Linked DNA regions of Homo sapiens. The protein of the gene in region 1 purifies or fractionates together with the protein of each later gene. This does not show direct contact. Each region holds a gene or a part of one and is shown in the gene's direction. Other genes may lie near its edges.

The links.
Region 2: the proteins of TBC1D15 (region 1) and UTP15 purify together in Homo sapiens (co-immunoprecipitation; 3 studies listed by BioGRID and IntAct, with this or other methods). This does not show direct contact.
Region 3: the proteins of TBC1D15 (region 1) and GRAMD4 purify together in Homo sapiens (co-immunoprecipitation; 3 studies listed by BioGRID and IntAct, with this or other methods). This does not show direct contact.

The regions. Positions count from the first base shown.
Region 1 is NC_000012.12:71,916,172-71,919,820, forward strand, and holds part of TBC1D15 (TBC1 domain family member 15), read left to right. Parts: intron 1-1,526; coding exon 1,527-1,626; intron 1,627-2,279; coding exon 2,280-2,377; intron 2,378-3,649. UniProt on the Homo sapiens protein: Acts as a GTPase activating protein for RAB7A. Does not act on RAB4, RAB5 or RAB6.
Region 2 is NC_000005.10:73,564,231-73,567,979, forward strand, and holds the start of UTP15 (U3 small nucleolar RNA-associated protein 15 homolog), read left to right. Parts: upstream 1-1,512; 5' UTR 1,513-1,682; exon of another isoform or gene 1,683-1,956; intron 1,957-3,031; 5' UTR 3,032-3,114; coding exon 3,115-3,204; intron 3,205-3,749. UniProt on the Homo sapiens protein: Ribosome biogenesis factor. Involved in nucleolar processing of pre-18S ribosomal RNA. Required for optimal pre-ribosomal RNA transcription by RNA polymerase I.
Region 3 is NC_000022.11:46,618,794-46,622,542, forward strand, and holds the start of GRAMD4 (GRAM domain-containing protein 4), read left to right. Parts: upstream 1-1,592; 5' UTR 1,593-1,772; intron 1,773-3,749. UniProt on the Homo sapiens protein: Plays a role as a mediator of E2F1-induced apoptosis in the absence of p53/TP53. Plays a role as a mediator of E2F1-induced apoptosis in the absence of p53/TP53. Inhibits TLR9 response to nucelic acids and regulates TLR9-mediated innate immune response.

The DNA.
Region 1 (3,649 bases):
CCCATACAGACACATTTATTTACAGACACATTTGAAGCCCTTTGTATATCCATTGTTGATCCCACTCTCCCTTCTCCAGGAGTAACCACTTTTTCGAATATGGTGTCTGTCATTATGGACATGTTTCTTTTTTACAGCAGAGTGGGTAGCAAATGTCTATGCCATGTTGGTATTCCCAGATCAGCTCTAGTCTTTGACTGTGTCACAGCAAAAATGATCCTGTTAATCAGAGTTGATTCTGCCCCTTCTCTATAGATCTCTCTGGTAAATGTGGAGGAACTATATCCTAAAGCCTTGAGTTAGTCTATTAATAAACTGGTTTTTAAAATTCATTAAAGAGAAACAGCTTATTGAGAATTAATAGACTTAAATTTTTTTTAAGAATGAATTGTTTCTAATATGATAGTTCTAATAAAGCACTATTGTACTGTAAAAGTGAAAAAGTAAGTGTGAAGGAGGAAATGTTTTTCTAAGGCTTTCACTAGGGTTAGGGCGGTAGGTTACCACAGAGGGATCGGGACATATGAGTTAAAGGGATCCAAATCATTTAAGAAGCCTTTCAGAGCATCAGTTTTGGTGCCTTCTGGCCCCTTGACTCAGGTGTTGGTAGGGAGTCTACTCAACTATGAAGTTTCTTTAAAGCATATGAACCCCAGCAGTTCCCAAACTTTGTGACCTCAGGGCCCCTTCACACTCTCCAATATTATTGAAGACCTGAAAGAGTTTTTGTTTATGTGGGTTATATCTGTTGATGTTTATGTGAAAAATTAATACTGAGAAACTTGTATTCATTTATTTATTAATTCATTAAATAACAACACATTCTACCTTAACATAGATCACTTTTTTTTAATGAAAAGTAACCTTTCCTAATGAAAAATTTACCGACACAAGAGATTGTTTTAAATTTTTCATTTTTAAAAATGTCTGGTTTAATAGAAGACAGCTGAATTTTCATATTTGCTTCTGTGTTCAGTCTTTTGGAGTATCACACATCATACAGCCTTTGCACTTGTGAAAGAATTTAAGTATGAAATCCAGATAATGTTTTAGTATTGTCCTGAAAATGGTTTTGGCTTTACAGATTCTCCAATGTAAAGTAATTCTTTAAAATGAAATACATACTAAAACTAAAATTAATTTTATTATGTATAATTTGAAGGAATATTTAACAATGGAAAGAATTTGATAAATATTTATTTCCCAAATGTGTGTTTCTTTCACCAAGTCTTTTATGCTGTGTAAGAAATAAATAGTCAGTCTGCAGTTGCTATGTCTGCATTCTTCTTTATCTAAGTCAAATGAATAGAGGAAAAAATAATCCTTAGTTTTGAGAGCAAGGATTCTTTCTCTTTACCCTCCCTTTTAGTGTTACGTTAGATTTTTGGTTAGTTACGCATTTTTTAAGATTACCAGTGTGGTATAAGTTCAGCATTTGTCCTTAGACATCATGTTTTAGTTATCAGTCATTATGTACTATAAAATATTTATTAAATATTACTTGTAACAATTATTTCCTTTTAAAGCATCAGAATTTTGAAGAACAAATGCAAGGCATGAAGACCCAGCTAATTCAGCTGAGTACCTTACTTCGATTGTTAGACAGTGGATTTTGCAGTTACTTAGGTAAGTTTAGTGAATCAGAACTATACCCAGCAAATTGTAGAGTAATGCATAGAAAAAAATGTAAAGAACTCTTTAAAGAAGCCAGGTGCAGTGGCTCATGCCTATAATCCCAGCACTTTGGAAGCCAAGGAGGGAGGATTACTTGCACCCAGGAGTTTGAGACTAGCCTGGCTAGCACAGTGAGACCCCATCTCTACAAGGAAAAAAAAATGCTGGCTGTGGTGATGCATGCCTGTAGTCCCAGCCACTCAAGAGGCTGAGGTGGGAGGATTACTTGAGCCGAGGAGGTTGAGGCTACAGTGAACTGGGATCACTCCACTGCACTCCGACCTGGGTGACATAGCAAGACACTGTCTCAATAAAAAAGAACTTAAAGACATATATACTCTATTGCACTTTCTTCGGTTCCATAAAAATGTGGAACCAAACTCTCTTTGTATAATTCTGCCTTAAACTTGATTCGTAAAATGTATTATTTGTTAGTTTTTAAAAAGAAGTCAGCCTTCAAGTTTGAAATGATTCCTTAACGTAGAAGACAAATGTATAGGGCCTTGAATTGCCTAAGATGCATAGGAAAGTTAGAGAAAAGTAACTGTATTCTGACATAATTAGCATAAGAGTAAGTCATATGTGTGTTTTTTTCTTCTGCATAGAATCTCAGGACTCTGGATACCTTTATTTTTGCTTCAGGTGGCTTTTAATCAGATTCAAAAGGGAATTTAGTTTTCTAGATATTCTTCGATTATGGGAGGTAAGTCCTTAAATTATTATGCAAATGTGATATTTATTATGAAAAGAAACAATTTATTCTGTAGAGTGTAAATGAATTATGATAGCCTTACTGAAATATCTAAGGCAAGTATGTTCCAAAATTCTGATGAACTGGTAGCCTCTTCTTAAAAATTAGTTTCACACTGAATATTTGGTCTTTTGGAGCTTCGTTCTTCAAATCACAATCTCTGTGAGATTTGGGGCCAAGAGGTATCCCAGAACAAGTGCTCTAGACCATTTGCTGCCTTTGTTCTTCCTTTGTGAGACTTGACTTTATGTGAGGCTTTGCCACATCTGTTATAGAGGATATTCTTATGTTTTTGGTGTACTCCTTTTGTTCCATTTTTTACCCAAGGCAACTCTTTATTTTTTCAACTTTTATTTTAGGTTCAGGGAGTACATGTGCAGGTTTGTTACATAGGTAAATTGCATGTTGCTGAGGTTTGGTGTGTGAATGATTCCATCACCCAGGTAGTGAGCATAGTACCCAATAGGTAATTTTACATCCCATGTTTCCCTTACACCATCCCCCCATGTGTAATCCCCAGTGTTTATTTTTCCATGGCAACCTTTAATGAAAAACCAAATCATTTCACATTTTCTAAAGTATTTGCTAATAATAAATCAGTGTGCTTTTTTTTTTTTTTTTTTTAAAGAGAAGGGGTCTTGCTATGTTACCTAGACTGATCTCGAACTCCTGGACTCAAGTAATCCTCTTGCCTCAGCTTTATAAGTAGCTGGGACTACAGGTCTACAGGTGTATGCCACTGTGTCCAGCCCAGTGTGCTTGTTCATAGAATGCTGGTATAATGATTGATCATACCTTAGGATAACAGAAATTCTTCCAAGGAAAGAATTGGGAGATAATCCATTTTGATTGTAAATCCAACTTTATACAGTGGAACTCTAGTGGTCTCTGAGGTTTTTACAGCTGGAAATGGATTCCTATACTATTGATGGCTGTGCTACCATTAGACAAGGCATTGTGCTGATTACAAGTTAAAAGTGGATTACTTTATGCTCACTTCCTCTGTTCTCAGATTAGAAGTAAAACCCACATGGTCTCTATCTGGAATCGTACTTAAATGTTTATCAGTTTTGTTAAATTAGTGTCTTAATTTGGGGGTTAAAAATGGGTTAATGTATTTATGCCTAGTGTTCCATTATTGGAACGCTAAGCATGTGGGAGTTGTTTATATCCTACTGCTCAAGGTCATCACCAAGGTCTGATTGAAAAATTCAAAAAATTGCA
Region 2 (3,749 bases), on another chromosome or scaffold:
CGTCTTAAAAGGGACTGGACAATGTGAACTGTGTTTCCTGAGGGAAGAACCATCTCCCCCTTTCTCCTATCCAGCGGTTGGCTAAGTGCAACTCCCCTAAGCTCTCTGAGCACCCTGCATGTATCTGTATTTTAGCATTCACCATCCTTTTGACAATTTCCATTTAAATAACAGCTAAATTGAAAACTCCCCTAGGATGGGGACCACTCTTACTAATTTTTGCACACAGAACAGTACTTGGTCCTACCAGGTGCTCCATAAATGTTTTCTGATCTTAACTTTAACAATTTTTTCCATATTCTTTTCTATTTCTAACATTTGCTGATTAGACCTGGCTTTCCACTCCCAACATCGCTACTAACTAGCTGGCCACTCCTGGACAAATAAATAATACAAGTTTTCTGAAATTCATCTATTATAAAAAGGTGTTGAAATAGGCCTTTCTAATATTCTTTCCAGCTCTAAACAGCTTCCATGTTACAAATCAGGGTTTATAGATGGAATTACAGGTCTTCGAGAGGAGAATAGCAAATGTGCTTAGGCGAAGGGGGTGGGTGGAAAATGAACGCTTATCTTGGCACAGCAGTTTAACGAGAGGAGAAGCAAAGTTGATTGGTAGGCCAAAATTTTGAAGAACAGGAGAGGGAGGCGGGGGTGAGGGGAGTGGGGTAACAGGACTTAGAAGAGGTGGTGGTGAGAAAAAGGGGGTAAGGCAATCGATAGCTAGGTTCACCTCGATCTGTCAGAGCCCAGGGATGAAGGGATAGAGAGTCTACGGAGATAAAGTGGGCAGCTATGCTAGTTCCTGTGGATGCTAATAACAGGAGCCCCTCGTTTCTTCCTGATCCTGGAATTATTCTACAAGGAGAGGAAGGTGCTATGAAAATAAATGATGCCTCACAGGCGACAGGTGTCCCAGCGTCCCGAGACAGGAGCCCGCTGTCTCCCGCTGGAGGGGAGACTCTTGCAGGAAAGAAAGTCCGTTCTGTCGCCACCGGCCAGCTGTGCCCGAAAAGTCCCAGGAAGAAACTCTCGCTCATCCGCGGCGAGCGGATCCCGGGCACAGGGGCTGGAGGCCGACCCGGTGAGAGTGCAAGGTCTCGCGACCACCGACGACAGCAGACAGCGAGTCGGGCCTTCCCATCTGAGGCCAGCTTCAGTACAGGCCTCCAAGCCCGGGCTTGTTTTGGCCGCGACGTCACTTCCGATTTCTTCTTTCGCCTTCTGGCTAAAAAACGTTCCGCAGCAATGCAGCTGAAACTTTCGGGTTTTCTTTTTTTTGTCCCTCTCTCCTTTTTTTTAATATTTTTGTTTTTGCCGCCTTTACGCTCCGAGGCCCATCCTGCCGGAGTACTACACAGACAGGGTCATTTCAGTTGACGGTTCTGGGTCACCAGAGCAGAGGAAGCCCCAATTTCGCCCTCCGGTCACACCTCCTACTCCAGATCGCCCCGCCCACCTGACCCGCCTCTGCGCCGCCGGGCTGCGTGAGTCTCATGAGCGTGCTCTGGTACGTCATCTTCGCGCGACGTTCGGTTCGCTGTGTGTGTCGCCGGCTCCTTGAGGGTCCATGTGATTTTTACGCCAGTGCTGCTGAACTGTGCAGGGTAGGGAGCTGGCACAGTCCGATTAATTGTCCTTGGGTCGAGGTGTCTCGTCGGACCCTTTGGGGCTCAGTGGAGGTAGGTGAAGGCGGCTCCCATTGAGGGAAGCCCACACTCACACCCGGCCTTCCTGTGTTAATCTGGCATGCTCTTCTGGGGCTTCCCAGGCTATATAGGAGAGTGGCCAAATTCTTTAACCGGCTCAAGTTCCCCTCAATTAAGCTTCGACCTAGGTTCTTCTCTGCGATTACACCCTTTCCTGTCCACCGTTGTTAGTTCCCGGAGTAATCAGCAACTCTCCAAGGCAATGGACACATTTCCATCTTTGCCTTTGCTTACGAGGCTCCCTCAGGTGAAGTGAACCTAATGGAGTTTTAAAATATTTGGGAGATAAAATCAGCAGATCTTGTTAACTATTTGGATGTTAGGAGTGAGGAAGAAAAGGACACGTCAAGGCTGAGTCTAGGTTAATATCTGGTGCCAGTCACCAGCCAAAATGGAGTATATTGGAGTAAGCAAAGGCACAGACCATGTCTTTATTTCATTCACCATTATAGCCCCAGTGCCTAGAGCAGTGTCCTGCACATTGGTAGGTACTTTAATGAACAGAAGAGTGTTCCCAAAGACCAGTGAAATACAATCATTGGTCATTGTATTTCATTAAAGCACCTTTTAAATATATGTTACACCTATTTATCGTGGTGTTACTAATGTAAAGTTTTCAGGCTTTTTGGAATAGATGATGAGCAGCACCTCTGGAATCATTTACCTGATAACATTGAATCTCTTTTGCAATTGAGTCGTTCTGGAAAAATGTTTTGGCTTGATTGCATGTTATTTAAAAGTTTTATCCTATTCTGCCACTTTAGTGTTGAATTTAATTTCAGGACTGCTTTATTACAGTTTTCTTTCCTACTGTTTAAACCTTTTAAAGTAAATTTAATTTTAAGCTTCTACATTAGAATATTAGCTTTGTGTTTCTTACTTCTTGGCATTTTTAGGCTTTCAGGAAATCAAATCCGTAACTATAATTGTTATAGATTAAATGTCATCTTAAACTTGGTTTCAGGAAACTTGTATTTGCAGTTTCACCTTAATATTTCCTGTTGCCAAAAAATGGACACTCAAAGCCAGCATGATCCTTTTTGGTTTGGCTACTGTAAGGCTGTGCTAGATTTATTCCTAAGTGTTGTAAAATGGTTGGCTAGGTGTGAGAACCTTTGTGTACAGCTGAATAGATGGTGCGATATGATAGCCTTCACTTTAATTATTCCTGCTTCCTATAGATTGCCTTTTCTGGGTTAGAATTAAATGGCTTATTGGTCTCTAATCTATATACTTCCACACAGACTTTTTAAAGAAAGCAGAGTGAAAATCAACTATGTGTACAAGCTTATAATATGTATATAAAATATTTTATTTTTCAGAATTAAGGCAGAGTCACTGTAATTATTTCTAATACCAATTCCAAAATAGTGACTCTTGGACAATAGTGCAATTATATGGAATTATGGCTGGTTATAAGCCTGTAGCTATTCAGACATATCCTATACTTGGTGAAAAAATCACCCAAGATACACTGTACTGGAACAACTATAAGGTGAGTGTGGGACGTAATGAGGGAGAAGGGATTTGTGTTTATGCCAATTTCTCTAGCATATGTTATACTCTGGATGCTCTAACAGAGAATTATTAACTGAAAACCATCTATCAGCAGCTTATAGTTTGGGCAGATAATTTGATATCTATTTTTTCTTGGAATTTTATGTAAAAGTCCATACTGCTTAATCAGATTAACCATACAAATGCCTAGCACAGAACAGATGATCAATCAATGCCAAATGAATTAAATTTTAAAATTTGAATCTCATATGTGTAAAGATGTTTATTGAAGTATTGCTTGTAATAGTAGAAATCTTGAAAAACCCATGTCTATTAGTAGTGGACTGGTATAGTAAATTACAGTGTGCCCTTATAATGGATGGTAAGTCTATTGCTCCTATGAAAGCTAATATGTGTTACTAAGTGAAAAGAAGCAAGATGTGGAACAGCCTACATGGTATGATTATCTTTTTGTTATTTTAAAAGTACAAGTACGTGGTTATTGTATGCTGGTGTAGACATGATAACTTTTTTTTTCTGGTA
Region 3 (3,749 bases), on another chromosome or scaffold:
GGCGTGCGCTGCAGGTTGGCAGTGGAGTGAGGAACGGGGCTATCAAGGGCTCTTGAGGGTTTCACCCAGACAGCTGGTGGACACGGTGCCATCCAGTCAGAGTGCCCCTTGAGACCCGAGTCTGTGCCAGGCGTGGCATAGTTGAGATACTGGTGAGCTGTCCGGCTTGGAGCCTGCAGGGAGGCCAGGTCAGGGGGCAGGGTTGAGAGCAGCCAAACACCCGGATACGGACATCAGCATTTGAGGCCGCCTGACTGTGCCCAGCTGGCAGGACTGAGGCCTGAATCCAGGGAGGGGATGAAACTCCTGGACAAGCCTTGAGTTTGGGGCAGCACACATGTCATCAGTTGTGAGCCGACCTCTTGAGGCTGATGTTGGAACAATAGTGGCCAAGGTCGGGCACGGGCTGGAAGGGCAGGATCTGCAGTCTCAGGACCCCAGAGGGCCCAGGGAGCTGTGTGTGTGCTGGGTCCTTGGGCCTCTTTGCATCAGGAGTTAGGGAGGTGCAAGTATGTGGCTGTAAGCATGGGGACATTGGGGTGGATGTTTTTGTTTTGTTCTTAGAGACAAGGTCTGGCCCTCACCCAGGCTGGAGTGCAGTGGTACGATCGTGGTTCACCGCAGCCTCAAACTCCCAGGTTCCCAGGCGATCCTCCTGCCTCAACCTTCTGAGCAACTGGGACTGTAGGCACGTACCACCACGCTGGCTCATGTTCTTATTTCACTTTCTGTGTCACTGCATTGCCCACCTCAGCCTCTCAAAGTGCTGGGATTACAGGCCTGAGCCCTGGTGCCTGGCTGGCGATGGGGTATTGGTAGAACCAGGCCTTCTTTGCTGGCCGCCCCCGGTCCTCCTGTTCACTCTGCAAAGCCCTGGAGTCTGCCAGCTGCCCCATCCTCACGTCCTCTTCAGCTGCCCAGGTTGGCTGTCCAGCTGCTGGTCTAACCTCCATCCAGGCCTTTCTGACAGTGAGGTTTAGGGGCTACCTTCCCTAGAGGACTGAGACTTGGAGGAGGGCCAGGTGGGGGCTGGGGCCCACTGCAGTGGGGGTGGGGGAGGTGTGTCTGTGTCGCTCAACATCTGCGAGTCCCCCAGGGACATTGCTTAGGAGGGCTGGCGGCTGTGGGAAAGCGGATGCTGTTTATCCCAGGATCAGCAGGAGAGCCGCCAGATAATAAGGGGATGAAGGGCGTGCCAGCAGCCGGGCCCTGATGTGGAGGTCAGCTGTGATCCAGGGACCCAGAACTCGGAGAGGAACTTTAGCAGGGGAGATGGTGTGAAGGAGACACGGCTCAGGGCAAGCGCCAGAGACCAGGAACCACTTTTTTTTTTTTAAATCTTGGGCTGGGGAAGGGGAAATAAAGTCCTTTGCGGTTTCTGAGTCCAGGGTTCCCTAGACACTGTTGCCTTTGTGTGTCCAGAAGCAATTCAGCGGTTTCCAGAGCAGCATGCTTTTGTGTTCCAGGGCTGGCTGGCCCAATTCCGTCCTGCTTGCAGAGAGGGCCTGGAGCCTGGCCGGGCGCCGCCCTGAGCCTGGGGGATCCTGGGAGAACCTGGACAGCCGTGGTGAGCCCTGCTGCCCTGCTCTGGTGCACAGGACTGGAGTCCTCCAGGCTCCAGGGCAGCAGACACCACCCTCTCCGTGCCTGCTGGTGTTGGGCGGCTTGGAGGCTATGGTTCCTGGGTCCTCGTAGCACATCCTGGTTCTGGGCCAGGACCTGAAGGAGCCACAGTGAAAGAGTGTTTCTGGATGTATCTGAGACAGACGGAGGTAGGGGGCAGGGGGCAGGGGGCAGGGGGACATGGTAGGGCCCATCTGAGTGGAAGCCCCAGCCTTGGGAAAAGCTGCTACTCTCTGGGGCAGTGGTCCCAGCTACCACGTGCTCTTCTGGAGCCATCTTGATCTTGAAAGGCAGGCTCCCTCCCAAGGCCGGGTGCAGGCCAGACCCCACCGGTAAAGCACCTGCGCAGCCCGGGGCCAGGGGTCCAGTGAGGAAGGGTGGAGGCCTCCTGAGAACCTGGCCTGGTCAGGAGGGCCGGCAAGAGGAGGAGCCTCCCAGGAAGCCCCTCAGAACCTGACAGGACGAGAGGAAGGGAGGCCGATCTGAGAGGGAGGGAGGCCCATCCGAGAGGGAGGAGGCCGATCTGAGAGGGCCGCATGGCTCGGAGTTGCAGGGGCCCTGGGCTGCCAGGGGTGGGCCTGTAGGTGCAGGTGGAGGGGCTGGTCCTGGGGAGAGCGGCTGGGCTGCAGGCTGAGGAGCTGGGCTTCCTCCAGGGACCGTGGAGGGGGTGGGGATGGGCAGCTAGAAGTGGGGAGGGCAGGGGCCGTCTGGTTGGGGATGCGCGGCTGCAGCACGCAGGACGGAAGGTGCAGGTGAGACGCAGGTGGGCGGTGTCGGGAGACCCGGGTCTGGCCTGAGGTGCAGCCTGGAGCTATGCTCAGTGTGTAGACGGGCCTTGGTTCCTGCATCTGTAAGTTGGGCGTGTGCTGGGTAATAGTGTCCTCCCCCAAAATTCATGTCCACCTCGTACCTGTGGACCCGACCTTACTTGGAAATGGCTCTTTGCAGATGTCACTGAGATGAAGTCACCCTGGTGTACAGTGGAGCACTCTTCAGTGCAGTGCGGGGGCTGCCCATGTGGCCGTGGAGGGCACCCCTACCCCGGTGCAGGCGCAGGCTGGAGGCGTAGCCCGGGCCCATCCCTGGCGGTGTGTCGCGGAGGGCACCCCTACCCCGGTGCAGGCGCAGGCTGGAGGCGTAGCCCGGGCCCATCCCTGGCGGTGTGTCGCGGAGGGCACCCCTACCCCGGTGCAGGCGCAGGCTGGAGGCGTAGCCCGGGCCCATCCCTGGCAGTGTGTCGCGGAGGGCACCCCTACCCCGGTGCAGGCACAGGCTGGAGGCGTAGCCCGGGCCCGTCCCTGGCGCTGTGTCGCGGAGGGCACCCCTACCCCGGTGCAGGCGCAGGCTGGAAGTGTAGCCCGGGCCCATCCCTGGTGGTGAAGGCTGGAAGGTCCATCCCTGGCAGTGTGTGGTGACATGTGTCGTGACATGGAGTTTGATTCTTAACTGACCGAAGCTTGAAAAGTCTGTCTTTTTGATGGACCCAGGGAGTTGGGTGAGGAGGGTGGTGGAGTCAGTGGGGCTGAGAGCAGGGTCGTCTAGGACCCTGATGTGTGGACGCCCTCCCCAAGGGCCGCTGTGAACCATCCAGCAGGATGACCCTGGGTTTGGGGCTGAGCCGGTGGCTGGGAGAGCAGACTGAGGAGTAGCTGGACACTGGCGGGGCACGCATTGCATTCTGATGGTGACAGGCGGGACACTCAGGGCCTTTGTCCCCTCTCTCATTGCCTCATTTGCTTGCCTGAGGTGATTGGGAAGGCAGCCCTGGCCTCGGAATTACAGCCTCCCAGACAAGGGGGCTGTCCTCTGCCCAGAGCCCTGCAGGCAGCCAAGAGTTCTGTGCGTGTCCAAGCGTGTCCCCTGCTTTCCTTGGGTGGAGGCCAGCTCGGTGCCCTACACAGGGCCTGCAGGCCCCAGCGCCCGGGTCATCCCCTCCGCTTCCCTCTCAGCTGCCGCAACCAGGAGGACTCGCCGGGTTTTTGAAAATGGAAGGAAGTAGGTTTTACATTGCTACACTTCCCCTAGCCCGTTCATCCTTCCTTTTTAAACATTAAAAAGCAGTAAAAATGGTGGTTACCGGGGGCTTGGGGAGGGCATGGGAGTTCCTATTCAGTGAGCAGAGTTTC